Linked DNA regions of Homo sapiens. The protein of the gene in region 1 interacts with the protein of each later gene in a pairwise test. Each region holds a gene or a part of one and is shown on either strand. Other genes may lie near its edges. The genes, in order: TCAP, TTC19, VIM and CDCA4.

Evidence for each region.
Region 2: the proteins of TCAP (region 1) and TTC19 interact in binary tests that used the Homo sapiens proteins (3 or more experiments, as listed by UniProt).
Region 3: the proteins of TCAP (region 1) and VIM interact in binary tests that used the Homo sapiens proteins (3 or more experiments, as listed by UniProt).
Region 4: the proteins of TCAP (region 1) and CDCA4 interact in binary tests that used the Homo sapiens proteins (3 or more experiments, as listed by UniProt).

What each region holds. Positions count from the first base shown.
Region 1 is NC_000017.11:39,661,478-39,668,023, forward strand, and holds TCAP (telethonin), read left to right. Parts: upstream 1-3,871; 5' UTR 3,872-3,882; coding exon 3,883-3,992; intron 3,993-4,238; coding exon 4,239-4,632; 3' UTR 4,633-5,077; downstream 5,078-6,546. Other genes in the region: STARD3 (stAR-related lipid transfer protein 3), read left to right, coding at 774-890, 1,327-1,576. UniProt on the Homo sapiens protein: Muscle assembly regulating factor. Mediates the antiparallel assembly of titin (TTN) molecules at the sarcomeric Z-disk.
Region 2 is NC_000017.11:16,002,445-16,010,413, forward strand, and holds part of TTC19 (tetratricopeptide repeat protein 19, mitochondrial isoform 1 precursor), read left to right. Parts: intron 1-348; coding exon 349-387; intron 388-1,386; coding exon 1,387-1,443; intron 1,444-1,756; coding exon 1,757-1,818; intron 1,819-4,029; coding exon 4,030-4,124; intron 4,125-6,533; coding exon of another isoform or gene 6,534-6,562; exon of another isoform or gene 6,563-6,620; intron 6,621-7,969. UniProt on the Homo sapiens protein: Required for the preservation of the structural and functional integrity of mitochondrial respiratory complex III by allowing the physiological turnover of the Rieske protein UQCRFS1.
Region 3 is NC_000010.11:17,230,652-17,238,473, forward strand, and holds the end of VIM (vimentin), read left to right. Parts: coding exon 1-59; intron 60-2,935; coding exon 2,936-3,031; intron 3,032-3,118; coding exon 3,119-3,280; intron 3,281-4,041; coding exon 4,042-4,167; intron 4,168-4,517; coding exon 4,518-4,738; intron 4,739-5,194; coding exon 5,195-5,238; intron 5,239-5,642; coding exon 5,643-5,728; intron 5,729-6,578; coding exon 6,579-6,620; 3' UTR 6,621-6,942; downstream 6,943-7,822. UniProt on the Homo sapiens protein: Vimentins are class-III intermediate filaments found in various non-epithelial cells, especially mesenchymal cells. Vimentin is attached to the nucleus, endoplasmic reticulum, and mitochondria, either laterally or terminally.
Region 4 is NC_000014.9:105,017,520-105,025,407, reverse strand, and holds the start of CDCA4 (cell division cycle-associated protein 4), read left to right. Parts: upstream 1-4,324; 5' UTR 4,325-4,409; intron 4,410-7,888. UniProt on the Homo sapiens protein: May participate in the regulation of cell proliferation through the E2F/RB pathway. May be involved in molecular regulation of hematopoietic stem cells and progenitor cell lineage commitment and differentiation.

The DNA.
Region 1 (6,546 bases):
TCCTCACCCTGTCCTCACTCCGTCATCTTTCTCTGGAGTGGCTCAGGAGTTCCCCCAAAGATAAAGGGATTATGGCCTTCCCGCATCTGTGCCTGGGCTTCTGGAGTCTTCCCTTTTGTCCAGTCAGGCTGTGGTGCTGCGGGTGGCCCCCTCCCATAGACCCCACTCTTCCCCATCCCCTCCTGGGTTCCAGCAGGAGCACTGTTCTTTGAATAGGATGCCAGGCTCTGCTTTGGGCACTGGACAGACTTGCTGGGTGCAGGGAAGCTCACTTCCTCTCTGGATGCCAACTTCCTTATCTGCAGAATGGGCTTAGGTGTGCTCAGTGGAGCTGAGGGAGAATGAAATGGTGATGGGATGTGAACCGTGCCTCCCAGGCTTAGCCTTCTCCTGAGCAGGTGTCCCCTCCTGAAGGGGAAGGGGTAAGAAGCGCCAGCCCAGCCTACTCTGCCATAGCAGGGCTGACCTAGAATCTCTGGACAGAGTGTATGAGGGCTGGGAAGGTGGTGAGCTCTCTGTCCCTGGGGGTGTGCAAGCACCAACAGGCCGTTGTAGGAGGATTCAAGCATCACAGAGTGGGTGGGGGTGGAGGGCCGATTCTGCAGCCCATGGGACACCTGTGCTAAGCCTTGTTCAGATAGGGTAGCTCTGCCTTTCTGCTTCCAGCCCAGTCCCAGCTGGGCCAAGAATGGAGTGTGAGTGGTAGGGGCTGCGGGGGGGTGTCAGGGCCTCACTCTGTTCCAAAGTCCCCCCAATGATGCCTCTTTCCATAGGGGAGAGAATGGCCCTGGGGGCTTCATCGTGCTCAAGTCGGCCAGTAACCCCCGTGTTTGCACCTTTGTCTGGATTCTTAATACAGATCTCAAGGTGGGGTGCTGGGGGGCTGCCAGGTGGGTTCTGTGGAGTGGAGGGGACCCTGCTGCTGACTTGGTTGCTGCATGACTTTGGGGGCTCTCTGCCATGCCTGGGCCTCCCCTTTGTCAGCCACCTTTCTTACTTGAAAATTTGGGTCAGGGTCCAGATGGTCTCTTAGCCCTGGGTTGCTGTAGGGCATGTGCCCCCCCTTCTTACCTCTGAGTCCTGAGGCCCTGAGGAAGGGTGGCTGGTGGCCAGCCCGGCCCCACCCTGGTCTGTTTGTGTTGCTGGTGCCAAGAGCCAGGCCCAGCATGTTCTTCCTGCCAGGGGTGAGTGGGAGAGGGCGACCCAGGCTGGATTCCAGAGCTGCACCTGCATTCTGGCCCAGAGCCCCCCTGCTGGTGCCAGCTGCAAGGGGAGACCCTGCTGAGGGCAGGCCATCAAGTGTGACTTCTGCCTGCCTTCCCCCAGGGCCGCCTGCCCCGGTACCTCATCCACCAGAGCCTCGCGGCCACCATGTTTGAATTTGCCTTTCACCTGCGACAGCGCATCAGCGAGCTGGGGGCCCGGGCGTGACTGTGCCCCCTCCCACCCTGCGGGCCAGGGTCCTGTCGCCACCACTTCCAGAGCCAGAAAGGGTGCCAGTTGGGCTCGCACTGCCCACATGGGACCTGGCCCCAGGCTGTCACCCTCCACCGAGCCACGCAGTGCCTGGAGTTGACTGACTGAGCAGGCTGTGGGGTGGAGCACTGGACTCCGGGGCCCCACTGGCTGGAGGAAGTGGGGTCTGGCCTGTTGATGTTTACATGGCGCCCTGCCTCCTGGAGGACCAGATTGCTCTGCCCCACCTTGCCAGGGCAGGGTCTGGGCTGGGCACCTGACTTGGCTGGGGAGGACCAGGGCCCTGGGCAGGGCAGGGCAGCCTGTCACCCGTGTGAAGATGAAGGGGCTCTTCATCTGCCTGCGCTCTCGTCGGTTTTTTTAGGATTATTGAAAGAGTCTGGGACCCTTGTTGGGGAGTGGGTGGCAGGTGGGGGTGGGCTGCTGGCCATGAATCTCTGCCTCTCCCAGGCTGTCCCCCTCCTCCCAGGGCCTCCTGGGGGACCTTTGTATTAAGCCAATTAAAAACATGAATTTAAAAAAAAAAAAAAATTCCAGCCCCTCCCACTGCCTTGCCTCTTGAGGGAAGAGAAAGGCAGGCAGCAGCTTGGATGAAGAGGGAAGACCCCTCACACAGCCTCTCCTGGGCTCACAGGAGGGCGGAGCCCGGGGAGCCAGTTCCTGAAACATGCCCCCCATTCCCCCCCCGCCCACCCCCCACTCCCCGCTTTCCTGACCAGTTCAACTGAGCAGATGACTGGTCAGAAAAAAATGCCCCGCCCCCTGCCAGGCTTCAGCGGGGCAAGTTTAAAGTCTCTAGTCCAGGAATGGAGGTGGGGGTATGGGCACCTGGCAGTGCCCACAGCAAGCCTTGACTGTGTGGCCTGGAGATGGGGCCTGAGCTTCAGGGTCACTGAGGCACCTCTGGGATCCAGGCCACCTGGAGCCCCGGACCTCCCAGACTCCACTCACCCATTCCCTCTCCCCGCACGGCACTCACACCAGGGGCGGCCTGGAGCCCGGATCGCAGGGCGGGGCCAGGCCACTGCCTGCCTTCCTCCTCCCTCCCGGCTGGCCTGCCCCCTTGCCTGCCTGCATGCAGGCTTCCAGCAGAGCCAGCTTCTTCAGAGCCAGGTGGATCCTGTTTCGGTCCTGCCTAGGTGTGTGACCCTGGGCGAATCTACCTCTCTCAGCTTCTGCTTCCCACTTTATGAAAATGGGACTGATGTCACAGGGTTGTTATGAGATTAAAAGATATGAAGAACCGGGGACAGTGCTCAGTAATCAATAGTCTGCAGTTCTGCACCCACGTGCTCCTGGGTACTCTGCCGTCCCCACAGGGTCCTCAGCTCAGCCCCTGTCACTGCCTCTCCTGCCACCCTTTGTCCACTCGGCAGTGTTCTCACTCCTCATCCCCCCACACCCACCACCTGTCTGCCAGCCTCTTGCACCATGAGTTGCTACTCCTGGGGTGCTGGACTGTCCCCACAGCCATCTGTCTCCCCTGCTCCCCATGAAGAAGAGCCAGTCCCCTCCCAGGTAGCACATCAGAGCGGGCAGGCTCCAGAGCTCTTCTGGTCCTCTTGCAGTGGCCAGAAAGTGGGGAAAGGGGCCCAGAGAGGGGCAGGGACTGACCCATGGTCACACAGCCTATTTATGGCTGATCTGGAGCCAGGCCTTCTGACTATCACCCATCAGAGCCCCTGGATTCCCATTTCACCCAACACAGGTGTTGGGGTAGAACTGGGGGCCCTCCACCCCTACTAGCCTGACTGTCTCCTGAGACCTGTCTCCTAAGACCACTTACCTGACCACTGGCCATGGGGAAGGAAAACACCTGGCCAAGGCTCATGCCCCAGGTTCCCAGGCATGAAGTTGACTGTCTCCGCCCCTGCTGGTGTGGTGAGGGTGACTGGGGACTAGGCACTAGGCCTTTGGTGCAGGCGCCTGAGGACGTGGTTGCACTCTCCCTTCTGGGGATATGCCCTTGAGCCCAGGCAGAGGAGAGCACAGCCAGGGCAGGACCTGGCAGCCCTGGTACAGAGCCCAGAGGGGGCATCAGTTCCTGCTGGTCCTGCTCTGTTTACAGACAAGCTGCTGTCCTCCCTGCAAAGGGGAGTGGGTGGGGCAGAGGGCAAGTGCCAGGGGGGCACAAGGCTGGGCATGTGGCTGGCATGAGACGGTGTCTGAGTAATGTCAGGCACCTGGAGGCATTGACCCCAGGACCTTGGACCCCAGACCTCTGACCGGGGGGCAGCCAGCGTCCAGGTACCCCAACCCCTGCCCTGGGTCCGGCGTCCCCCCATTAGTGAGTCTTGGCTCTACTTATAGCATCTGACACCAGAGGGGCCGAAAATAGCCCCTGGAGAAGGGGGAGGAGGGGGCTATTTAAAGGGCCTGGGAGGGGAGAGAGAATGAGGAGTGATCATGGCTACCTCAGAGCTGAGCTGCGAGGTGTCGGAGGAGAACTGTGAGCGCCGGGAGGCCTTCTGGGCAGAATGGAAGGATCTGACACTGTCCACACGGCCCGAGGAGGGGTGAGTGTGGGTCTGCTAGAGCCCTGCCTCTGCTCCCCCAGAGCACCCTCACTGAGCCATGAGGCCAGAGCATGAAGCCCTGGAGAAATTTCTGGGGGTGGGGGCAGGAAGAATGCCCCATGGGGAGAGCAAAGGGGAACCACCCTTCCTGCCCCCAGGTCCCAGCAGCCCAGGGGAGCCCCCCACCCAGCCTGTGCCCAGAGAGCAACAGCTCCCAGGAGCTCACTGCCCCTCCCCTCTCCCCAGCTGCTCCCTGCATGAGGAGGACACCCAGAGACATGAGACCTACCACCAGCAGGGGCAGTGCCAGGTGCTGGTGCAGCGCTCGCCCTGGCTGATGATGCGGATGGGCATCCTCGGCCGTGGGCTGCAGGAGTACCAGCTGCCCTACCAGCGGGTACTGCCGCTGCCCATCTTCACCCCTGCCAAGATGGGCGCCACCAAGGAGGAGCGTGAGGACACCCCCATCCAGCTTCAGGAGCTGCTGGCGCTGGAGACAGCCCTGGGTGGCCAGTGTGTGGACCGCCAGGAGGTGGCTGAGATCACAAAGCAGCTGCCCCCTGTGGTGCCTGTCAGCAAGCCCGGTGCACTTCGTCGCTCCCTGTCCCGCTCCATGTCCCAGGAAGCACAGAGAGGCTGAGAGGGACTGTGACTTGGGCTCCGCTGTGCCCGCCCTGGGCTGGGCCCTTCCTGGCTAGGACTGTGGAGGGGAGCTGCTGGCCATGGCTGCTTTGTAGTTTGCCCAGAGTTGGGGGCTAGGGGAGGGGGGAGCCAGAGGCCAGGATGCCTGAGCCCCCTGAGTTCCCAAAGGGAGGGTGGCAGAGACAGTGGGCACTAAGGGTGGAGAGTTGGGGGCCAGCACAGCTGAGGACCCTCAGCCCCAGGAGAAGGGACAAAAGGTACTGGTGAGGGCAAGAGGTGCCTGGGAGGAGTGGCCCTGATCCAGGAAAATGTGAGGGGAATCTGGAACGCTCTAGGCAGAAGAAGCTGGGAGGGAGGGGGAGGTGAAAAGGGCAGAGGCAAGGATGGTGGGGCCCCCAGCACCCTCTGTTAGTGCCGCAATAAATGCTCAATCATGTGCCAGAGTTGCATCTCTTTCCTTGTGGTTGGGGGGGCTGGCCCATGGGTGTCCCCTCAATGCCCACTTCTGGGACCAGGCTCCGCATCTGAGCTAAATATGGCAGAGCTAATGGGTACACCCCATACTTGGGGTGGGGGTGGGGGCAGGACAGAGCTGTAAACAGGGTGCTGTCTCCAGTCTCCTTCCCGTACCCTGACCGCTGCCCAGTCCTGGCTTCTGTGTCCAGCCCCCTGGCACTGGGTGGTAACCAGCAAGCCAGCTGGCATCCGCATCCAGGGTTTGTTTCAATGATGTCTCGTGGAGAATATGGAGGGGCTGGTGCCAGGACTGTCCTTGGCTTTGCCTCGGGGTGTGAACGGGGTCAGTGACCTCTAAAACTAACCTGCCTCTCAGTTCTGAATCCAGACAGAATCAATCCTCAGCTGTGTCTCGCTCCACACCCCCTGCCCTGGAAGCCAGGGAAGGTTGGAGGTGCTAGGGGGTCAGGCTCCCCTCTGTGACCCCTGCAGCTGTTGTGGTGACTCATGTCCCAACCTAGCTGCCTCTCCCAAGGAGACTTTCCCCTGGGGACAAGGGGGAGGGAATGGCATGGAGGAGGCCCACATCAAGCGGGGCCAGGAACCCACGGTGGCAGGAGCTGGGCTGGTGACCTACCCAGGGCAGAAGGGCCCGGGACTCATCCAGAGGGGAAGGAAGGGGTCTTCAGGAAGACCACGGAGATGCCACAGGCAGAATTGGCTTCCCATCTGGGAGATAGGTGGGGAGACCCTGGCATTTTGACAGCCAGAACCTGGGGTGCTGAGCAGAATCTTCATGCCTGGCCTGGCCGCTCCTTCGGAGGGAAGCTGGAGGGTGGGCTGCGAGAGGAGTGGGGTCAGAGCCCCTACATCCGCAGGACCCCAAATCGGCTGGGCCCCAAGGCCCGGACTGCGCTCCCCGGTGGCCCCGGCGGCCCTCCGCGAATGCGTCCTGCCCCTCCCCTGCCCAAGCCCTCTGCCCTCACCCGGGTCCGGCGCCGCCCCCGAAGTGGCGGGAACAACCCGAACCCGAACCTTCTGTCCTCGGGAGCCCCCAGATAAGCGGCTGGGAACCCGCGGGGCCCGCAGGGGAGGCCCGGCTGTTCCGCCCGCTAAGTGCATTAGCACAGCTCACCTCCCCTATCGCGCCTGCCATCGGACGGGCAGTGCCGCGCCCTGCTCTGGGGCCCCCGGAGCGACCACAGCGGAGGCCGGAACGGACTGTCCTTTCTGGGGCGGGGTGGGGAGGGGGTGTCGCTGGAGGGCCCGGTGGCATAGCAACGGACGAGAGAGGCCTGGAGGAGGGGCGGGGAGGGGGAGTTGTGTGGCAGTTCTAAGGGAAGGGTGGGTGCTGGGACGGGTGTCCGGGAGGGAGGGGAGCCTGGCGGGGTCTGGGGCCTCGTCGCGGAGGGCGCTGCGAGGGGGAAACTGGGGAAAGGGCCTAATTCCCCAGTCT
Region 2 (7,969 bases), about 24 Mb from region 1:
GAGATTTCAGGCATGAGCCACCACGCCCGGCCACAGCTTCAGTTTTTTTACCCTTGGGGTGACATAAGACCTCTCAATTCCAGACCAAAAAAAACCAGTATCATTAGCATGTTTTTTTAATGATGAGTGGACCTAGATTTGGTTTGTTAACAACAAAGTATGTGCAAGTATTTAATTCTCACATGATTGCTGTCCTGTGCTTCTTCTTGCAGATTAATTGGTGATGTGCTTTTCATTTTCAACTATTTTTTAAATTTTGAGGGTGAAAGCAAAAGGGAATTTTAAAGTTTTGAAATAAGTAGGAACACAGTATTCTAAACTGAAAAACAATTTGTAATTTGCTTTCAGATGGCCAACTTAGCATTTATACGGGGTCAGCTTGAAAATGTAAGTAAATTGCTTTGTAATATCTTGAATTTATGAAGGAGTAGCTTCAAGGGAACTGTAATAGTAAGAGTACAGGCTAAGCTGCTATAACAAAGAGACCCTAGAATATAGTGACTCAAACAAGATAAAAGTGTATTTCTCTTTATTGTGTTAGTCCAGAGATAGGCTAAAGACTGAAGGCAGACAGACATAGGCACCTTTGCTCTCTGATCCAGAAGTCCAGGTTTCTTCTAAGATAAGCCCTCCTCTGCCTAGGTGAGCTGACTCACCTCCAGTCTGCAGGAAGGGGGAGAAGATGGACTGTGAGCAGCTTCCTTATAAAACATGATTAGAAGTTCACGTTCTTTCTGCCTGCATCCCTTGGCCTAAATTTTATCATATGACCATATCTAACTTAAGGGTGTCCAATCTGCTAAAATTGACTGAATTTTTTTTTTAAGATAAGGTCTTGCTCTGTTGCCCAGGTTGGAGTGCGGTGGCTTAATCATGGCTGACTGCAACCTCGACCTGCCAGGCTCAGTTGATCCTCTCACCTCAGCCTCCTGAGTAGCTGGGATTCCAGGCGTGTGCCACAACACTTGGCTAATTTTCTTATTTATTTATTTATTTATTTATTTATTTATTGTAGAGACGGGATTTCACCATATTTCCCAGGCTAAATCGAGGGGACTCTGTAATCAAAAAGATGGAGAAGAGAATGACTATTAGGAGACAGTTTGTAGTCTCTGCCACAGTGGGTTTGGATAAGAACTTAATCTCTGAGGTTGTTTTCTACTCATCAGAGAGTAGTTTAAGGTACACAGAGGATGTTGAGGGTCCTGATATTTTGATCTGTTTTCGCTTCAAAAGGGTACTTTTCTGTGTGTGAGTGTGCGTGTGTGTGGGTATATGGGTTTTACAAGGAATGTTGCATCAGACTGGCACTTAGAATCCAGGGTCATATATATATATATAAAATGGGGCCCAATTAAAAGAAAAATCTTTTCCTTATGCTTTTAGGCTGAACAACTTTTTAAAGCAACAATGAGTTACCTCCTTGGAGGGGGCATGAAGCAGGTAAGGACATTGCCTAGTATTGGCCCCTCACTGAAGCAGTTTTCAAAACAGTCTTGTCTCCTGAAAACTCCTCCTAGCCCCACCACATGCTTTGGTCAGGAAAGGTGGAGTTTCCCTTCTGAGATCTCTATACAAATTGCCATTCTTTCACTAAATGCAACAGCATGCTTGCCAAGGAATTCACAGTTGGCTCATCACTCTAAAAGAATAAAGACTGTGGCTTTGAGGCCACCGTCAGTCTGGAAGTTGATCTGAAATATGCCATGAAAAAATTTACTTGTTATGAGTTCCCTTCATTCTCTTTCTCTCACAGGAGGACAATGCAATAATTGAAATTTCCCTAAAGCTGGCCAGTATCTATGCTGCGCAGAACAGGTAAGTACAGCAGCCAGGGAGTAGGACTGTGGGCAGGAAACTTTGACTCTGGGATGTTACATAATATTCATTGTCTACTGGTCATCTGGGTCTCCCAGAAATTGGGTGTCACACTCAAAGTGTTCCATCCCTCATCTTTGAAATTGTCAGTCTTTTTCCAGTTTGCCCCTACTGTTTCCATCAGCCTGCCTAGTGGGGCACACAACATCTCTGGCTGCCCTGTGACAAAACTAACTAAGTTTTCTGTTGCTGCTTGAAGTGGGAAGGGAAGTTAGAGTTAGAACTTTAGTTTAACTTTTCCTAGAAGAGGAAAGAGCAGTGTGAAAGCTGCTGGGGATAATATATTAATACTCTGAAGAAGCCATTTTGCTGGTATAAATAGAGTTCAAAGATGAAGCATCTAGGTTGTAAGCAGAGAACTCCTCTAGAGAGTTGTATTTGGGATGAATTTAGGGAGAGACCTAAGACTAGCTTCCCTTCAGGTTTTAGTGGTGCAGAAGTTGGTGCGAGAGGTTTGGAGTGACATGGAGCCTGATGCTGTAGAAAGGGTGCTCACTGAGGCCAGGCCCTGGCACTGTTCCCTACTGTCCTACTCACCAGCTCCTTTGTTCTCATCAGGACCTGCATAGTCTCCTTGCATTTTGATTGGACACTAGATAGGCTAGAGCTTCCTGGAGCCTTTGACTTCAAGTCTTTTGAGGAGCTTTGAGCTTGGCCCATGCCAGGGAACACTGCAGCTTGGTCAATCTTTCTTGGAGTTGTAACAAACATGCCTAGTTCTTGATTGGGTATGAATCCCTAGGGTAAGAAGAAGCCCAGAGCCTAATAAACATTGTTGAGTAAGACAAATTCATAGTCTTCTAGAGGTGAAAGCTAGTAACAATTAGCCTCTGAGTTACATGGTACTCTGTACTTTTCATTTTGTTTTATTAAGAGAAGCATGAGACTAGAAAAGACATGGCCAGATCTGAGGCTTCGAAAGGCTGATATAGGTTATGAGGGGAATTGTTTGTAGACCTCTTGCTCCGACTGGGAGCGTCTTCTGGGCAGTGTCCACTTGCCCTGTGTTATGGCTAGAGAGGGCCCTCTTGCCAAGTTTTGAGCGTAGGGAAGGAAGGGGATGCTTCTGTTCTTCTGAGAACAGAGCAGAACAGTAGGGTCATAAGTTCTCCCCTGGCAAAGCACTAGAGAACAGGTGAGCTTTTTAGTGCCACTTCTGTAAGAAACTAGAGCCAAAACTGAAGAAAAGAACCAAAGCTGAGCTCCTAAATGGAGAAGGGATTTCTGTCACATTTCCTCTGCATCTCTGTAAAAAGCAGCAGTCAGTCGGCCTGCTTGGGTTGACTCAACCCTCTCCAGTTGATTGAGGGTCCAGGGCTACAGAGTTGGGTTAAATGACTTCTATTGCCATAGCTAGGAGTCCCATTTCTGCAAAAGAAACTTTTATCAGAGACTTATAGCTTGAAAGAAATATAAAATGACTAAAGCTCCTCAGAAGCTGTATGAGGTCAACAGTTGGAATCCTCACTGTAGGGCGGCCTGAACTGTTTAGGGTAGTATTACTTTGAACAGGGGTAAGGCTTTCACACATGGAGAAGTTGATTCACTGGAGGCCATCTGTTAGTGGGAGATGATGAATACTGCTGGCTATGTCAGTTATTAAAATTAGGGCAGCATTCCTAGCTTTTTGTGTCCTAAGTTATATTAAATGGATGACTTAAAAAAACTGCTTTGAGAAATGGCAGATTTGACACTACTTAGACTTTAAGCAAAGTTCCCTCTTCCCATTTTACACTTCCTTTACTGATAATGTTTAAACTGAGCTGGAAAAATGAAGATAAAAAGAATTTGTGAAAAGGTAAATGGGCCGGGCGCAGTGGCTCACGCCTGTAATCCCACCACTTTGGGAGGCCGAGGTGGGTGGATCACTTAAGGTCAGGAGTTCCAGACCAGCCTGGCCAACATGGTGAAACTCTGTCTTTACCAAAAATACAAAAATTAGCTGGGCATAGTGGCGGGCACCTGTAATCCCAGCTATTCGAGAGGCTAAGGCAGGAGAATCGCTTGAACCCCGGAGGTGGAGGTTGCTCTGAGCCGAGGTCACGCCATTGCACTCCAGCCTGGGCAACAAGAGCGAAACTCCATCTCAACAGAAGGAAGAAAAAAAAAAGAAGAAAAGGTAAATGGCTGATTATTGATTTTGCTTTACAGACAGGAATTTGCTGTTGCTGGCTATGAATTCTGCATTTCAACTCTAGAGGAAAAAATTGAAAGAGAAAAGGAATTAGCAGAAGACATTATGTCAGGTAGGAAACCCATTATCTGGGCATTGCCTTTTCTCCACAAAAGGCTTTACTTTACACTTTTGAGAAATGGAAAGAGATCTAAATTGGGAAGAGGGAAAGTTACCTATTTTGCAAAATAAGTGTCTGTCTTTAAGGTATCAGCAGAAGTTTTGGAATAAGATGTTTTATTTAAAATATTTGACTGCTGTTTTGGTGGTGGTTTTTTTTTTAACCCCCTTGGTAACATGGTCATAATTTATTTGTTAACTTTTAGTTACATATAACTTAAGGAAAATTGGGGAGCAGAAGGAGAAGGTGTTTCTCGTATCTCTTAGTTCAGCTACCAATCAAAATGCTTATTACGTTTTAGCCCTAGATATACAGCAAATTAAGAAAGAAGAGAAAAAAAGCTCATGTTTTTACAATCCATCCTCACTCATTCTGGAGGCTAGGAATAGAACTGGATGAGCAGGAAGCTCTCTAGCTCTCCACCATTTTGGGTTTCTTAATTTGGGTTGAAGTATTGAGAATTTTCAGATTTGACATTTATTCAATACCTACTCTATACCAAGAGCTACCGAGATGGTAGGGATACAGCAGTCAACTCTTCTGTACCTAGTGGTCTTCTAACTCTCTCTTGAACATAGAGTAGTCCCCCGTTATCCATGGGGAATATGTTCCAAGACCCCCAGCAGATGCCTGAAACGACTTCTAATACACTGTGTTTTTTTCTTATATATATGTACCTATGATAAAGTTTAATTTATAAGTTAGGCACAGTAAGAGATTAACAACAATAACTTTTAATAGAACAATTATAACTATATACTGTTAACAGTGTCACAGACAGGAGATTCATTCTTATTGTAGATCTTATCAACCTCAGCATACAGTTTTTTGTTTTTTGTTTTTTGTTTTCTTACTAAGTTGAGAACTTTCACCTTTTCATTAAAAGGAAGCACTTTATGACTTCTCTTTGTCATATTCAAATTGCCAGTATCACCACTCTCACACTTTGGGGCCATTATGTAAAATATGGATTGCTTGAGCACAAGTACTGCAACATTGTGGGTTGATCTGATAACTGAGACTGCTGCTAAGTGACTGAGGCCAGCTGCCGTATACAACTTGGGTACACTGGACAAAGATGATTCATGTCCTGGGCAGGATGGAGTGTGACAGTGTAAGATTTCTTCATGCCACCCAGAATGGCATGCAATTTAAAAACTTACGGATTATTTCTTGAATTTTTCATTTAATATTTTTCGGACTCTGGTTGACTGCAGATAACTGAAACCCCAGAAAATGAAACTGTGGAGTAGGAGGGATCACTGTACACCAATTTTTTTGTTTTCATCACTCCACTGAAGCTACCTTTATCAAAGTCACCAAATCCAATGGTTACTTCTCAATCCTTAACTTACTCATCAGCAGCTTTAACTTAGGGGATCACTGTCTCCTACTGAAAATACTTTCACTTGGCTTCTGGGATGCCTCACTGGTCTCTCTAGTGAGGTGAATAGACTTCCCTACCTCTTAATGTTGGCACGCCTTAGGGCTGTTTTCAGCCCTATTCTCTTTTCTCTCTGCCCCAACACCTAGGAGATATCTTTTAGTTCCATAGTTTTAAATATTAGATTTATACCTTCAGCCCCAACTTGCCCCCAAATGGCAGACTTATAATTATGATTGCCCACCCGACATCTTGACTTGAAGTCTAATGGTCATCTCATACTTAACATGTCCAAAATAGGTCTCAGTTTTGCCGCTCACAACTTGTTTCGTCACCAGTCAGCCCCAGATTTGTAAATGGCACACTACTCATTTAGTTGCTTTGGCCAAGAACCTAAGAATTGTCCATGATTTCTTCCTCATTCCTCATATCTAATCCATCAGCAAGTTATACTGGATCAGCCATCAAAATATATCCATACTGACCATGTCTCATCCCATTACCCTACTGCTTTGGTCCAGGCCATCACTGTTTCAAGACCTCAGTACCTTTGTATCACCTTTAGAATAAATTTAGAATCCCTGCATGGACCTGTAAGGCGCTTATGACCTGGGCCCACCCACCTCTTCCATGCCATCTGCTGCTCTCCCCTTGCTCGTTCCAGTCTCACCACACTGGTCTTATTCTGGCACATTCCAAGCTTAGTGCCACCTCAAGGCCTCTTTGCTTGATATTCCCCCTACCTAGACTGTTCTCTCTTACCTTTCTCTGGCCAACTCCCGTACTTCACTCAGGTCTCTGCTCAAATAGCACTTCCTCAGAGTGCTCCCTTCACTAAAACTATCATCTCTTCCCACCTTACTATTGCTCTACTCCTCTTTCCTTTACTTTTCTTCATCACACTTAAAAGTAGAGGTGTGTGTGTTGTGTGCTTGTGTTTCTCCACTAAAAGTATGTTTTTGTTTAAAAATTTTTAGTCTTTGTCTTCCATATCAAAGAAGGATAGAGACTTCATCCATTATACTCAGTGCTAAATCCTCGGTGCCTAGAACAGTGCCTGGCACATAATAGAGGCTCAATAATTACTGAATGAAAGAACAAAAGACCCAAGAAAGACCAGCAAATAAATCCAGTTTCAGTGCAGTGTGGAAGTGCTTTGAGGAAATCCACAAGAGGTGTAAAAACAAGTCTAGCTGTCAAGTAAGTCACTTCTGAACTATTTACACCTTTGCTGTCTTTCATTTATAGTGTTGACTATGGTTTCTTAGGAGTGTAAAGCTATATTTTCTGATTCAAAAAATAATACCAGTAAACACTGAAGAAAGTTTAGAAAAGCACTAAGTAAAAATCATCTGTAATCATACTATTAAGAAAGAGCTACTGTTTTATTTATTACTACGGCTTTTCGGGTTACATTTTAAGAAATAAATTTGGGATGATACTGTATATCCTACTTTGTAACCTGAGTTTTAACAATTTAGTAACATATTATGAAAACACTTTTTTTTTCCAGGCAAAGGAATTCTTGTTAGATAGAGCAAGCTAATTTCTATTATAAATATTATTTTTACATTTTACTAGTTGCACAGTATAGAAAATGTGTTACATGATTCTTCATCTTATTTTTTCTAGAAAAGGAATTCCTACCTATTCAGTTTTGCACAAAGCAAATCCATTATCAAATTTACGTGCTTTTTATTGACACAACTATCTCTATTCTAGGATAACATTACTTAATTACATAAAATTACATTACTTAATTACATAAAACCTTGCTCTAGGATAATTATTTTGTTACCTATGTTGTAGACATATATGTACTTACTGAGGAAATGCCCATAAAAAATTAAGTGAAAACTTTGGTTACAAAACAGTATAGTTAGTATGTAGACTAAAAATAGGAATGGAACAAAGGCTGAATGATAGATATCAAAATACAGGCAGTGATTCTCTTTGGTTGGTAGGTTTATAGGGAATTTATATTTTATTTGTGTTTCTCTGAGTATTCTATAATTTTGTACAAATTTATATTTTTCTTTTTAATTTCCAATGTTATCTGTTAGTATAAAAAGTCAAATAATATTAATAGTACAAAGCTTAATTTAAGAGAGCATTTTCTTGGCTATCTCACCCACCCCATCTATTTTTTTTATTTTTTAATTTTTAATTTTTTTTTTTTTTTTTTTTTTTTGAGACAGAGTCTCACTCTTGTCACCAGGCTGGAGTGCAGTGGTGCAATCTCGGCTCACTGCAACCTCCGCCTCCCGGGTTTAAGCGGTTCTCCTGCCTCAGCCTCCCGAGTAGCCGGGACTACAGGCACGTGCCACCATGCCCAGCTAATTTTTGTGTTTTTAGTAGAGACAGGGTTTCACCATGTTAGCCAGGATGGTCTCAATCTCTTGACCTCATAATC
Region 3 (7,822 bases), on another chromosome or scaffold:
TGCAGGAGGAGATGCTTCAGAGAGAGGAAGCCGAAAACACCCTGCAATCTTTCAGACAGGTTTGTAGACTCTCTTCCCACTCGCAGCCGCCTGACCCCACCCAACACAACCCACGAGCAATTCTAAAAGTTGCTTAACTCACGTCTAAAAAGTGCAAAACTTCAGGGCTGCGCGTAAAGCCCTCTAGTGGCGGGAAGACCACAGGTTGGAGCTTCTCATGATTAGAAAAATATTAATAAAACCCCTTGAGCGATTTTTTTTTTTTTTTTGAGACGGAGTCTTACTCTGTCGCCCAGGCTGGAGTGCAGTGGCGAGATCTTGGCTCACTGCATCCTCCGCCTCCCGGGTTCAAGCGATCCTTGAATGATTTCTAAGCAGTTCCTTGGGACATAAAGAAAAATCTTTTAACTTTTTACTTTGTTTCCCAAATGTTGCACAGTTTTGCAACACATTGACCTTCTGGTTTCGAACGGTTACAATTTTAGATTGTGGTTTGCCAAAGTCAAGTTGCTTAATTTTTACAAGGCCACAAAAAGCGCAATTATGCCCTGCAGTTTAAAATGGAAAACGTGTTGGAAGATAAGAAAACTTAGTTTCCAACTGGAATGGAGCCAGCAAGTTTCTTTTCTTCTTTGCAAATTCTATTGTGTCATTAAAGTTCGATGGAAGTATCACTATGCACAACTATTTTGTGATCTAATAAGGGTGAAAAGGAGCCATCTGTCCCCTTGGCTAAGGGGTATTAATGGTTTCTATGGGCTTCACTATGGAATGTAGATACAGACATTCTGGCAAATGTGGTGGCTCTGGACAGAAATAATAGGAGTCTTTGTATTCCCAGGGAAGCTTTGCAACAGGCTACATTCTTACTGAATATGTAATGATGTAAGCACGGTTCTAATTGGACACAAGTATTTGCTAACATCCGTTATCTAATATCTGGCCCAGACTTGAGAAGTAGGTAATGTAAAAAGTTTTTAAAGCTACAAGCATACCTCACATTTTAAAAGTCCTTTCTTGATTGGGTTCTTGTGTTCTTTAGCACTCTTGCCATAAAAAATAATAACAGTAATAAACCCAAGGCTGAAAAACTGAATTTTAACTAAAGGGTTTTTGTGCGTGTTTTTTTTTTTTTTCACCAAAATTAGATGGACTTACAGAATTTTTAACTTAAAATTGGAATCCAAAAGCCAGAAGATCCCCATTATAGTTTATAGTTGTATTCCCTGGAATATTTACTGGGATTAACTGCAAAGCACTCTCAGATGAATAGTGTAGTATAACATTTTGAAACTGAAATACATTTACCAAATTAATTTAACCACAGCAATGTGTGTGGTTCATTTTAGTCCTTGAGCATTTTTGATTATCATACCTGTCATGTTTTCTGCAGTGTAGTGAGTTAACATAAAACAACATCAATACAAAAGATCCTCTGTTTCGAGATTAAGCAAAATTCCTCATTCTCTTCAATGTGATAGAATACCACATTGATCTTTCTTTGGAGGTTAGTAAAATATCTTTTATGTATTTTTCAGGGCTTAACAAGTAAAAATCAATGTTTTCATCAAGTCTGATCTTTTTGTCACCCACTCTTCATTCATTTTTCCACTAAGGTGATAGAAAAGTCTCAACAGTTTAAGACCGTAAGGCTATGAACTCCAAATATAATTGCTGACAAGATAAGCAATCCTCACGCATCCTTTTGAGAGGAAATAAAATCTTAGTTGCAAGATTACATATTCTGATTTGGAATGCTGAGCTTTTTAAATGGAAATATAGAAGGACGGCTGAATCAGCAAAAATCCTTTATGTAGTTTCATTCTTTGCAAGCTTGACCAGTCATTCTGAAACAGGCTAACTGAACTGATACAGTGGCAAGTGAAAAAGACATGCCTTTACAGGATGAGTCAAAGGAGTTTTAGAAGAAAAATCCACCAGAGAAAGCCAAGCAAATACAGTTCAGAGTTACATTTCTTTTCCATTTTTTCCTGAACTGAATCTTTGGCATGCATATCCTGAATTGGGTTATTGAATATAAATCTAGCCTTGTACAATGGATGCCAGATGACTACATATTTGCTTTGGAGCCTAAGGATAAGTTTCAAAAGATTTGAGTGGAGAAGAAAAGCTAAAACTCTTGAAGCACAAGTTTCTGTTCTCCATGTACTCAAGTGTACATGAAGTTGTGAAAATTTGTCCACCTCTATCATCATGTTATTCCATGAAATTACAAAACAAATCTTAAAAATGTTGTGGCATAGATTTTCTAGATTTAAAAAGTAATTAAATTAAATGAATTACTTTATTTTTTGAGACAGAGTGTCACTCTGTTGCCCAGGCTGGAGTGCAGTGGCACTATGTTGGCTCACTGCAACCTCTGCCTCCTGGGTTGAAGAAATTCTCCTGCCTCAACCTCCCAAGTAGCTGGGACTACAGGCATGTGCCACCACACCCAGCTAATTTTTGTATTTTTGGTAGAGACGGGGTTTCGCCATGTTGGCTAGGCTGGTCTCGAACTCCTGACCTCAAGTGATCCACCCGTCTCAGCCTCCCAAAGTGCTGGGATTACAGGCATAAGCCACCATGACCAGCCTTAAAAAGTAATTTTAAAATATCACTGGTAAAATGTGGATTCAGTCATGATTGAGTGCAGTTTACCATGTGTGTGGACATTTATTTATTTTAAAATTGTCTGATCACCACCTTGAGTAAAACACAAGCAGTCACAATTAAAATATATTAGTGAGCAGGAGAAAGCACAGCATATTATAGCACTGAATGATTTATAAACCTATTCCAGGGTCATAAAATGTGTCAACGGCTTTTCTATAGTAAGGAGACTAGGTTCAGATGGTTAATCTAAGACAAATAAATGAGATAAGCCATACACTTTTACATCCTCCATGTCCTGTCTTTTCTCTGTTCAAAATAGGATGTTGACAATGCGTCTCTGGCACGTCTTGACCTTGAACGCAAAGTGGAATCTTTGCAAGAAGAGATTGCCTTTTTGAAGAAACTCCACGAAGAGGTTAGTGGAGTGACTTTCGGGGAATGAATGAGGGTAAGGCAGCCCCCACGGTTGGCAGAGCTGACCGTCTGTCTGTTCTTTTTGCAGGAAATCCAGGAGCTGCAGGCTCAGATTCAGGAACAGCATGTCCAAATCGATGTGGATGTTTCCAAGCCTGACCTCACGGCTGCCCTGCGTGACGTACGTCAGCAATATGAAAGTGTGGCTGCCAAGAACCTGCAGGAGGCAGAAGAATGGTACAAATCCAAGGTAGGAAACAAATCAGTGCGGCTTCAACCAAAGAAAAGCATTGTGTTCTCAAAACCCCATACCTGTGTGTGATTCCTAAATATCCTCTAGCTCCAATGCAAAGCTGGCTTTGACTTCTTGCTCATATTGTGTTTGCCACCACAGCCTCCCCACCACTCACATCACCTCCTTTATTTATTTATTTATTTTCTTATTTATTTATGAGACAGAGTCTTGCTCTACTGCCCAGGCTGGAGTGCAGTGGCAACATCTTGGCACACTGCAACCTCCGCCTCCCAGGTTCAAGTGATTCTCCTGCCTCAGCCCCCTAAGAGCTGGAACCACAGGCAAGCACCACCATGCCCGGCTAATTTTTGTATTTTTAGTAGAGATGGGGTTTCACCATGTTGACCAGGCTTCTCTCAAACTCCTGACCTCAGGTGATCCACCCTCCTCAGCCTCCCAAAATGTTGGGATTACAGGCATGCGCCACCACGCCTGGCCACATCACCTCCTTCAGAATAGCAGACTCTCTTCCCCCTAACCTTGCCTCCAAGTAAACCCCAATGCCATACCTTTGACCTCCACTGTGTTGAAATGAGCACTGTAGAGTGAACTCTGAAAATACTAATGTCAGTACTCCACTGCTCTTTCCCTGGCTTTCAAAACAGAAATTTAAACCTATACTGGAAGACATTCAGTGAGAAATATGATTTTTTTTTTCTAAGAGAGTCAAAAGACTTGAATGTGAGCAATCTACATTTCTGTTTTCTTCCCAACAGTTTGCTGACCTCTCTGAGGCTGCCAACCGGAACAATGACGCCCTGCGCCAGGCAAAGCAGGAGTCCACTGAGTACCGGAGACAGGTGCAGTCCCTCACCTGTGAAGTGGATGCCCTTAAAGGAACCGTGAGTACCAACCCTGCAGTAAAAGAGGGAAAATAATGACCCATTCTGCTGACTAGGCTCATGATGATACCTGAACAAAATGTTGAGTGAGTAAAAATGTATATCATAATGCAAAGAAAATGAGTTATCAAGACAGACTCAAAAGGGACTTCATGGAACTCTTGAAGGTTTTAGCTTGCCTATATCATTGCTTCTAATATGAAGGACTTGGTACTCGCATTCTCCACCTAAAATTAGAGTGGTCGCCATTTGCCGCTAATGGAAATTATTGCAGAAGGTCTGTAAATGGTTCTGGGAACAGCTGGGTTTTTCTGAGAAATAACACCAGACATCTTTCTCACCCCCTGCAGAATGAGTCCCTGGAACGCCAGATGCGTGAAATGGAAGAGAACTTTGCCGTTGAAGCTGCTAACTACCAAGACACTATTGGCCGCCTGCAGGATGAGATTCAGAATATGAAGGAGGAAATGGCTCGTCACCTTCGTGAATACCAAGACCTGCTCAATGTTAAGATGGCCCTTGACATTGAGATTGCCACCTACAGGAAGCTGCTGGAAGGCGAGGAGAGCAGGTAGGGAACTCAGACTTGGATGCGTGAACTAATGGTGACCATTTGTTAGGCCCTGTGCCACTGGGCTCTAAGCAGTGTCACATTTAATCTTTAGAAAGTTTCTTTGAGGTAACTGCTTTCCACTTTTTGTAGAGGAGGAATTTGAATTGAGAGAGAGTAAGTGACTTGCTGAAAAAGGGTTAATCAACAGCAGAGCTGGGATTTGAACCCATAACTCTGTCAAAGCCTCCACTCCTAACTCCTGTTCATGCTCCTGTGGAGAAAATGCTTGTAGTAACATATTTTAAATGTACTAACAAGACCAGTCATGGGAAAATGTTTCTGAGACAAATCTCTAGTTTATGATTTAAAACAGTACGTTTTCTTACGTGACGAAAACAAAAAGTGTGTTAATTTGTTCCCAGTGGTTGAAGTTATTTGCCAACAATTTTACTGTTTCTCTTCATCTGTTTATAGGATTTCTCTGCCTCTTCCAAACTTTTCCTCCCTGAACCTGAGGGGTAAGCATTTTATTTCCCTTTAGGAAAAACGTCAGCTGCTTGTAACCACTGTGTTTATGTCAAAGCATTCATTTTTTTTAGGATATCTGAAAAAATGCCATATAAGAGAAAACTCTATAAAACATCTATAATTTTCGAACCCAAGTACACTCTTGCATTCTATGCTTTAAGTTAAATGCAAACTCCTTTTTCCTTCTTCCTGCTGCAAGTACTATCTCATCCTGATGCTCAAGAGTGTCAGGGCCTGGGTTTCCAAACAGAGACTACCCTAAAATTATTTGGCGAGTAGTACTTTACACAATTGCCTCTCCCCCACAAATCATAATTGTTTCAGTAAAATGGTTACTTGGTTTTTCCAAGAAAAAACTCGTTTTTACTCATTTTTGGCCTGTTTGTTTATTTAGAAACTAATCTGGATTCACTCCCTCTGGTTGATACCCACTCAAAAAGGACACTTCTGATTAAGACGGTTGAAACTAGAGATGGACAGGTTGGTATCTTTTAAGGAAAAAATAGGGTAATCTCAGACAGGAGTTGATATATTTTAAAATCAGTGAATCTGAATCTCAGATACAGCTGGCTAATTTGAGAGGTTCAGGTTTCATTCATGCCTACTAAAAAAAGAATAGGCTTCTTCTTCCAGCAGTACACACAGCCAACTAATTATTTGGCTCCTGGATGTGAAGTTGAGATAGCAGTCTTCCTGTGCTCCAGAATTAGTGATTTGCTTTGGTGCTTAATTTGAAGTGGGAGTAAGCTTCCTTAAACCACTTCCTAAAGCAGCTACATGAAACAGCTTCACTAGACTACCTCAATATGAGGAATGTTTTGATCCTGGACATATGGTGTCTTCCTACCTCCATACTTTATAGATTCCTAAACCCATCTATATAATACAAGCATGTGCCATACGATCATTTAGTTTCTTATTACCTCCCTATGCCAGGAAAGAAATAGTTGCAATTTATTGTAGTCATCATGAAATCTTCCCTTGCACATAAATTTAAAATGTACCTGCTGCACATTTTAATATGTCTTAATTGCTTTTAAACTTGGCTGTATTGTGTACAACTATTATACCATCTTTTATAAACACAGTTTTTTAAGAAATTTCTTTTTGTAAGTTACAACATTCCACTGGATCCTTATATTGCCTGTAGTGGAAGAGGGTCTTGTGTGTCTGCCCCTTCTAGTTTTCACTCATGCAGAAGCAACATAACCTTCTGATTTGCACAATAAATTACATATATTTAGCAGGATTTTTATTTGCCGTGATATATAGGATAATTTAGTCTTTGGCATGTGGCATTATATTTATTTTGGTTTTTTTTTTTAAACAGGTTATCAACGAAACTTCTCAGCATCACGATGACCTTGAATAAAAATTGCACACACTCAGTGCAGCAATATATTACCAGCAAGAATAAAAAAGAAATCCATATCTTAAAGAAACAGCTTTCAAGTGCCTTTCTGCAGTTTTTCAGGAGCGCAAGATAGATTTGGAATAGGAATAAGCTCTAGTTCTTAACAACCGACACTCCTACAAGATTTAGAAAAAAGTTTACAACATAATCTAGTTTACAGAAAAATCTTGTGCTAGAATACTTTTTAAAAGGTATTTTGAATACCATTAAAACTGCTTTTTTTTTTCCAGCAAGTATCCAACCAACTTGGTTCTGCTTCAATAAATCTTTGGAAAAACTCTTTTGTTGTGTTATTTATTGGATAATATCTAAACAATTCTCTACTTGGTCCTATTAGTTAATTTGTCATTACAATCATGTAAGTTGATAAATTCAGGTTATTTATGCTTGAGATGTAGTTCTTAATTTTGTCATTTTTGATAGACCTCACTTCTTTTTATTATTACTTAAAAACATTTACAAATAGGTGGTGTCGAATAAAATAACTTGTACCAAAATGAAGATAGGTCTCTCTAAAATGAGCTCAGGTCTGTGATTTTAATCATAACAAACAGACTTCCTAAAATTAAAAAATAAAAACTTTTTTTAGTACATATAGCATATGAGTAACACAAATTCCACTTTGGGAGTTAAAGCATAGGAAGTTGCCAAGATATAGGGGCTTATCTTCCGCTAGCAAGATGCAGAGAAATGGAAAAAGTTCACCAAGTTTTTCTTTTATTTAAGACAGGATCTCACTTTGTCACTCAAGCTGGAGTAAAGTGACTCAATCATAGTTCACTGCAGCCAACAACTCCTAGGCTCAGGCAATCCTCCCACCTCAGCCTCCTCAGTAGCTAGGAGTACTCAAAACAAATAAACGAATGTCTAACTTTAGCCTAAAATGTGAGTTGTCTTCCCAAAACTAGCCACACACCTGGCTAATTTTTTTAATTTTTTGTAGAGATGGGGTCTGGAAGTGTTGTCCAGCCTAGTCTGGAACTCTTGTGCTCAAGTGATCCTCCCTCGGCCTCCTAAAAAGCTGGGATTACAGGCATGAGCCACCACACTCAGCCTAGTTCACCAAGATTTAATATATGAAACCGTTCTGCTTTATTGTGTGTGTGTGTGATAGCTATATCTATATCCATCTATCTATAGATACAGATATTTGTAAAGAC
Region 4 (7,888 bases), on another chromosome or scaffold:
ACAAAAATTAGCCAGGTATGGTGGTGGGCGCCTGTAATCCCAGCTACTAGGGAGGCTGAGGCAGGAGAATCGCTTGAACTCAGGAGGCAGAGGTTGCAGTGAGTTGAGAGCATCACACCATTGCACTCCAGCCTGGGCGACAGAGTGAGATTCTGTCTCAAAATAATAGTAACAATAATAATGTCCTCCAGGGAATTGTCTTCTCGTGTCCACACTGGCCCTAGGCTTGGCCACATGTGGTTTGGCCACCTGGACATTGGCACATATGAGCAGAGCAGAGGGAAGTATAAAAAGAGCCCCTGTATTGGTGCCTGCCTGGGCTGGCCTTCCGGAGGATGACAGAGCAGAGATGAGTCAGTCATCTCTGCCAAGACCCAAACACTTGAGTGAGCTCAGCTGATGCCTCATGAGACACAGGATGCTGTGACCCCAGCCGAAATGCCAACCGCAGAAATGCCAGCAAACAAAAGGCTGCCTTTTGAATCTACTAAGTTTGGGAAAGTGTGTCACACAGCAAAAGGTAACTGATATAGAGGTGGGTGTCCTCCTTAATACTTTTCTTTTTTCTTACTTTATCTATAGGGTAGCCTTCCACATGTATTTCTCTAGATTTTTATTTTATTTTTTATGTTTATTTATTTATTTTTTGAGACAGAGTCTCACTCTGTCGCCCAGGCTGGAATGCAGTGGTGCAATCTCAGCTCACTGCAACCTCCGCCTCCTGTGTTCCAGCAATTCTCCTGCCTCAGCCTCCCGAGTAGCGGGATTACGGGTACATGCCACCACGCCTGGCTAATTTTTGTATTTTTAGTAGAGACGGGGTTTCACCATGTTGGCCAGGCTGGTCTCGAACTCCTGAACTCAGGTAACCCGCCCACCTCAGCCTCCCAAAGTGCTGGGATTACAGGCATGAGCCACTGTGCCCGGCCATTTCTCTAGATTTTTAATAGCATTTTGTGAGGTTTCAAAAATATCCTGGGATTTTGCCTGGCAATAGAATAAATGTATATATTCATTTGGGAAGTAAATGAACTCTGGACTCAGGCCCAGTGACACATTTTCACCAGCAATACCACTATGACTCCACTAAGAGAACAACTGGAGTCTCCGCATGGCCTCTCCTGGCCGCTGCCCCATGCACCTCTTCTCTTGGTTAATTTTAATGAGCCTTTTCATGGTAATGAACCATAACCACGAGTACAATAGCTTCTAGGGAATTCTCTGAGTCCTTCTAATGAATTTCAAACTTGAGGGTGGTCTTGGGGCTGTCCCTAACTTTGTACTTGTATATTTAGTTTGCTAAAGATTATACCATGAAGGGGTGTTGAATTTTACTAGATGCTTCTACACTGAGATTTTCATACTTTTTTTCTCCTTCATTCTATTGTCATGAATCATGTTGACCTTGCAATGTGAAATCAACTGTACTCCAGTTCCTGGAGTACACCCAACTTGGTTGTGATGAGTTACCTTTTTTACATTATCATTGGATCTGATTTGCTAATATGTGGTTTGGAATTTTAAACAATGTTCATGAGAGAGAATACCATGTGTGTTTTCTCCCATCATGTCCCTTTCGAGTTTTAGTATCAAATTTGTTAGCCCTGTAGAACAAATTGGTAAGAAGAGTTCCCCTTTATCATTTGGAAGACTCTGTGTAAGACTGATGCTCTTTCTTCAATTTGAGTCTTTTTTTTAACGGATTCTAGTTCTCCTTGTCATCAATTTTCCTGAATACATTAGTTACTGAAAAATATGACTCCAATCTTGGTGTAACCATAGACTTCTATGTTTTTTCTGGTCCTATGTCCTAGCAAGCCTGTTAATATTTTATGACTACAGTTAACAGTAACTTACTGCATATTTTCTAATAGGTAGAGGAGAGGATTTTGAATGTTCCCAACACAAAAGAAATGATGTTTGAGGTGATGGATATGCTAACTACCTTGATGGATCATTATACTTTGTATATACATGTCAAAATATCACACCAAATCTCATCTTGAATTGTAGCTCCTATAATTCCCATGTCGTGGGAGGGACCCGGCAGGAGGTAACTGAATCATGGGGCAGGCTTTCCTGTTCTGTTCTCCGGATAGTGAATACATTTCCTGAGATCTGACGGTTTTATAAAGGGGAGCTCCCTGCACACGCTCTCTTGCCTGCCGCCGTGTAAGACGTCCCTTCGCTTTTCCTTTGTCTCCTGCCATGATTGCGAGTCCATTAAACCTCTTTTTCTTTATAAATTACCCAGTCTCGGGTATGTCTTTATTAGCAGCATGAGAATAGACTAATATGCTCTGGAAGATATTATCTTACTCCAGACATTATTTTAGATCTTTGCCAATTTGACCCGTGGCAAACAGCACTCCAGCATAGCTTTAATTTCCACTGCTCTTGTTCTGATTGGGGCTGAGCATCTATTCGCCTGTATAGGAGCATTTGTATTTTCTTTGCTCTGAACTGTGTTTATATTCTACGCCCACTTTTCTTTTCTTTTTTTAAGAGATGGGGTCTCACTCTGCTGCCCAGGCTGGAGTGCAGTGGTGCAATCATAGTTCACTGCAGCCTCCAACTCCTGGGCTCAAGGGATTCTCTCACCCCAGCCTCCTGAGTAGCTGGGATTACAGGTGGGTGCCACTATTTCCAAACCACTTTTCTTTGGTGATCTAGATTTCATTTGCATTTGCAGAATATCTGTATATTAAGGAATTTAACCTTTATGTGGGATACAGCCAGGAAAAACTTTTTTCCCCATTTGTCTTTTCACTTTGACATGCATAAACTTTAAATTCTCAGGTAGTCACCTTTATCAAGTCCCATTTTCTTTTACCTGGGCAGTAACCTAATGGGATTTTCTACTTCCAGCCTTCCTGCCACCTCCTCCAAATCTATTACCAACAGTGATTCTTGGTGGTTGTGGTGCCTCATGCCTGTAATCCCAGAACTTTGGGAGGCCAAGGTAGGAGGATCACTTAAGGCCAGGAGTTGGAGACCAGCCTGTGTAACAAGACAATACCCTGTCTCTACAAAATTACCAAAAAAAAAAAAAAAGTTAGCTTGGTGTAGTGGCACACTTCTGTAGTCCCAGCTACTTGGGAGGCTGAGGCGTGAGAATCACTCGAGCACAAGAGTTCGAGGATACAGTGAGCCATAATCACGCCACTGTTGTCCAGCCTGGGCGAAAGAGACCCCCTTTTTTTTTTTTTTAAATAAGAACAGTGATTCTTTTCAAGCACAATTCAGATTCCAGTTCCTTCTCTGCTGACCATGCCAGTAGTCTCCATCCCACTCCCAGAATAGCCCAAAAGTCCCTCCACCCCTCACACTTAAAACTTTCCCACGAGATCACAGGGTTCTTTCTCACTGCACTGAGACGTGCTCCTGCCTCCTGCCCCTGCCTCGGGCTTTGCCCCAGCCATTCCTCTCCTGAATTCTCGTCCACTCTTCCTTTTGGTGCTTTAAGACGCTCCTTATCCTAGAGACCTATGTGAGCAGCGCCCCCACGTCACTCCCAGGTTTCCCGACAGCATTTCAGCATTTACCACCGACCTTGGCGCATCCGCACCTGCGGATTGATCTGAGGATTCCCCCCCAACTTCCAGCACTTGGCTCTCAGCTGCAGCCACGCCTGCCGGGCCTGCTGCAGGCGCTCAGGGTATTACTTAAGTCAATGATTGCAGGTTCTCGCATCCTATTTAAAACCTTTTCCACTAAGAGATTTAAAACACGTGTCCCCTGCTTTGAACTTTCACGTTACATTTCTTACGTGTAAACCTAGGAAGCCTTTGGAGATAACCCCGGTCTCTGGAGAGGCTTGGATAGACCTCGGAGCCCAGACCGCCCGGGAATTGCCGTGCCCGGCTCCTCCCGACCCCGGCACGGATGCCTCGGCGGAGAAGTTGAGCCAGGCAGAAGCGAGAGAGTCCAAACCTCTGTTTGCCCCGCCACGCCCGCCCGAGGGCCCCACGTGGGCCCCAGGCGCAGGCGCGTTCAGTTCAGGGCCAGACGCGCGGAGACCTGGGAGCTGGCGGGGCGGGGCCGGACTGGGCGCGGGGAGACCTGGGAGCCGGCGGGGCGTGGGCGTGGCGGGGCCGGGCGCAGGGGCGGGGGCGGGGCAACCGAGGGCGCGCGCGAGCCCCAACGGCCGTCGCCGCAGCGCGGGAAGACGCGCCACAGATGCCCCGCCCGCGTGGGTTTGAACAAGAGGCCCCGCCCCCGGCCCGCGAGTGGCCAATCAGCGGGCGTAGCGCGCGGAGAGCGCAGCGTCGACCCTTTGTGGACGCCGAGTGGCGGTCGCTCGCCCCGCCCCGCGCCGTCGGGCGCTCCTTCCTCAGCGGCGGGAAGCTGGCGGCAGCGGCGGTGGCGGTGGCTGAGCAGAGGACCCGGCGGGCGGCCTCGCGGGTCAGGTGAGCGGGCCCGGCGGACCGCTAGGGCGTCTACGGCGGCGTGCACTTTTGTGCTGCAGGGCGCGGAGGAGCCTGGGGGCGGTGCGCGGAGTCTGTGGCTCCTGGCGCTGGGTCCGGGGCGGAGGCGGCGCCCGGGACCACCGCTGGGGCTGCCGCGGCGCCCTCGCCGCCCTCCTGGGCGCTGGTTCCCCCGCGGGGTGGCCGCTGCTGAGGGGGCCCGGGGAACAGAGGGGCCCGGGCCGCCGTCTGCGTTCCTTGCGGAGCGCGGAGCTGGGGCTTTGCCGAGGCCTGCGGGCGGCCCCACGCGGGAGCCGCTTCACGAGGGCCCGGCTGGGGTACGCAGCGGCGTTTCCCGTACCTCGGCTCTAGTTGCAGCGGAGGGAACGCCAGGCGCGCCGCAGCCCCCTCTGTCGGAGCCCGGCCGCGGAGAGGGCCGCGGATGTGGGAGGAGGCCCAGACCCCGGGCGGGTCGGCCAGCGCCGTCTTCCCTGGGCTCCTCCGGCGGTGCGAGGTGGGACTAGGGAAAGTCCCCGAGACACTTGCAGAAGTCAGACGCAAGCCTCCCTCCGCGTCTTCAGACGCTTCTCGCCCCGCAAACAGGATCGTCGTGGCAAAGGCTCCGACAGCTTGCTGGAATAGAGGGTCTCCGCTGCCTCGCTTCTCCTGTGGCCTTCGTGTGGGACGCACGGGACGGCGGGACCCAGATAACCGTTCTCTCAAAGCGAGCCACAGAAAAACATTGCCTGTTCACAAAACTTACGTTTTATCAACTTTCTACGTACAACCACTCTATTTTCAAGTGTCACCGTGTTTTATAATTAGGGTGGAAATCCAGAATACAAAGTGAGTTACACCCCTTTTCTAGGAAGAGTAGTAGGCTGTATCTTGGAAAAGGGGCTAGGAAGTTTCCCTCAACTTGCCACTGGAACATGTTTTCAGGGAAAAGAAGGAGTGTGTTTCGTTCCAAGTAACAAAAGTACCTGCAATTGGCTGGGCGCGGTAGCTCACACCTCCCAGCACTTTGAGAGGAGGCCTAGGCGGGTGGATCTCCTGAGGTCCCGAGTTCGAGACTAGCTGGCCAACGTGGTGAAACCCCGTCTGTACTAAAAATACAAAAATTAGCTGGGCGTGATGGCGCATGCCTGTAATCATAATCCTAGCTATGTGGGAGGCTGAGGCAGGAGAATCGCTTGAACCAGAAAGGCAGAGGTCTCAGCCGAGATCGTGCCATTGCACTCCAGCCTGGGCGACAGAGCGAGACTCCGTCTCAAAAAACAAAAAAAACCAAATACCTGAAATTAACATAACAGTAATTGTTCATGAACAGCCTCCAGGAGACTTGTAGTGGAAGGTGGAGCTCCCACTCAGTACTCAAGACTGCAGACCTTGCTCCTCTTCTCCCTGTTTTTCCGATAAAGTATTTCAAAGCTTATCTGATGTGTGAGGAATGGAAATTGTTGATGATTTGCTTAAAAACCCGAAACTTTGAAGTGGCTGCAAGTCCAGCTGTGAAGGTGACAGGTTAGGTCAGAGTTGAGTCTGTCCCCAACCGTCCCAGCCCTACTGATCAGAATCTGGGAATCTGCGTTTTCAGCCAGCCTCGTGGTATTGCTCAGCCACGAAGGTGTGGCCACTGCTGCTGTAGTGAAGGACCAGTCCCCGAGCTGTACTCTGCTTGCCTGAGCAGCACTGCGGGGCTGCTCCCTGCTGGCCTCTGCCTCGGTGGGCCTAGGTTGCTCTGTCCCTAGTGGCCTGTTGGCTGTTCCACCTGCCATGTCGGACATGTCCTCAGTCCGTCTGGCCCTCTTCGTTTTTCTCTGTCTGGTCGGTGCTTGGTTTAGAAGCCTGAGGGCAGTGCTGGGAGTTGACTGAGGGCTTGGCTGTCCCGGTAACAACCTGTGGAGTTGGTGGGATTTTAGGCATTTAACTAGATGTGTAGAAAGAGCTTCAAAACTGAGCAGGGGGCCAGGCATGGTGGCTCACGCCTGTAATCCAGCACTTTGGGAGGCCGAGATGGGCGGATTGCCTGAGTTCAGGAGTTCGAGATCAGCCTGGCCAACATGGTGAAACCCCGTCTCTACAAAAAATACAAAAATTAGCCGGGTGTGGTGGCGCGTGCCTGTAGTCCTAGCTACTCGGGAGGCTGAGGTAGGAGAATCGCTTGAACCTGGGAGGTGGAGGTTGCAGTGAGCTGAGATTGCATCACTGCACTCCAGCCTGGGGGACAGAATGAGACTCTGTCTTAAAAAAAAAAAAAAAAATTGAGCAGGGAGCTAGGCTCCACAGCCCCACCGGTATGGTATAGGGCCCTTTCTCATTCCATATTAGAAGGAGTTAAGCAGCCTCAGGCAGAAGTCACACAGGAGGCCCTCAGGGAGCTGGGCCCAGCCCAGGCATCCCTCGGGGCTGGTTAAGACCATGCTCTTGCTGACTTTGTCCCAAACACAGATATAACCCAATTCAGGGTGATCCTCACAGGCCAGCTTCTCCGGGCCCAACCTTATCCTCTTCACTCCTGAACACATGTTCTGGGTGACAGCTCTTTGGGGTCACGTGACTGTAAAAAGCACCTGTGAGCTTTACTCTTTTTTGTATTAATAGTAATAAACTTGTCAGCATTTTAAAATATTGGGTACAACACAGAATTAACAGCTGCTGGAGATTTGGAACATTGGAGAGGAATGATTTGAAGTGACTGAACAGGGATATTCTCCTGGTACCAGAATGGGATCTGTGCATGGGATGAGATGCAGTGGAGGATGATGGGGATTATCTCTCGTCCCTTGTAGAACTTGTGTAACCCAGGCACATCTATGCAGGTCCCTGGGTTACACAAGTCCTACAAGGGGCGAGAGAGAATCTCCATCATCCTGGAGGATTCTTTCTGGCCCCTTGTAGCATTTCCCACCCTGATGGTGGCTACCCTTCTGTGTTTTCACAACTTAGATTAGCTTTGCCTGTCCTGAAGGTTCAGATCAATAGAATCCTACGGTACATATTTTTGTGTGTGTCTTGCTGCTTTTATTCAGCATAATGTTTTGAAATTTATCCGTGTTGCATAAATCATTGAGGTATGTTGCTGAGTTGCATTCCTTTGTCAGAATACACCAGATCGTATACATTCAACTTGTTTTAAGTGTTTTTTTTGTGTGTGTGTGTTTTTTTTTTGAGACGGAGTCTCGCTCTGTTGTTCAGGCTGTAGTGCAGTGGTGCAATCTCTGCTCACTGCAACCTCCGCCTTCCAGGTTCAAGCAATTCTCCTGCCTCAGCCTCCCGAGTAGCTGGGACTACAGGCACGTGCCACCACACCTGACTAATCTTTTGTATTTTTAGTAGAGATGGGGTTTCATCGTGTTGGCCAGGATGGTCTCAATCTCCTGACCTGGTGATCCGCCTGCCTCAGCCTCCCAAAGTGCTGGGATTACAGGCATGAGCCACTGTGCCCGGGCTGTTTAAGTCCTAAAAGAATGCTTGTGGCT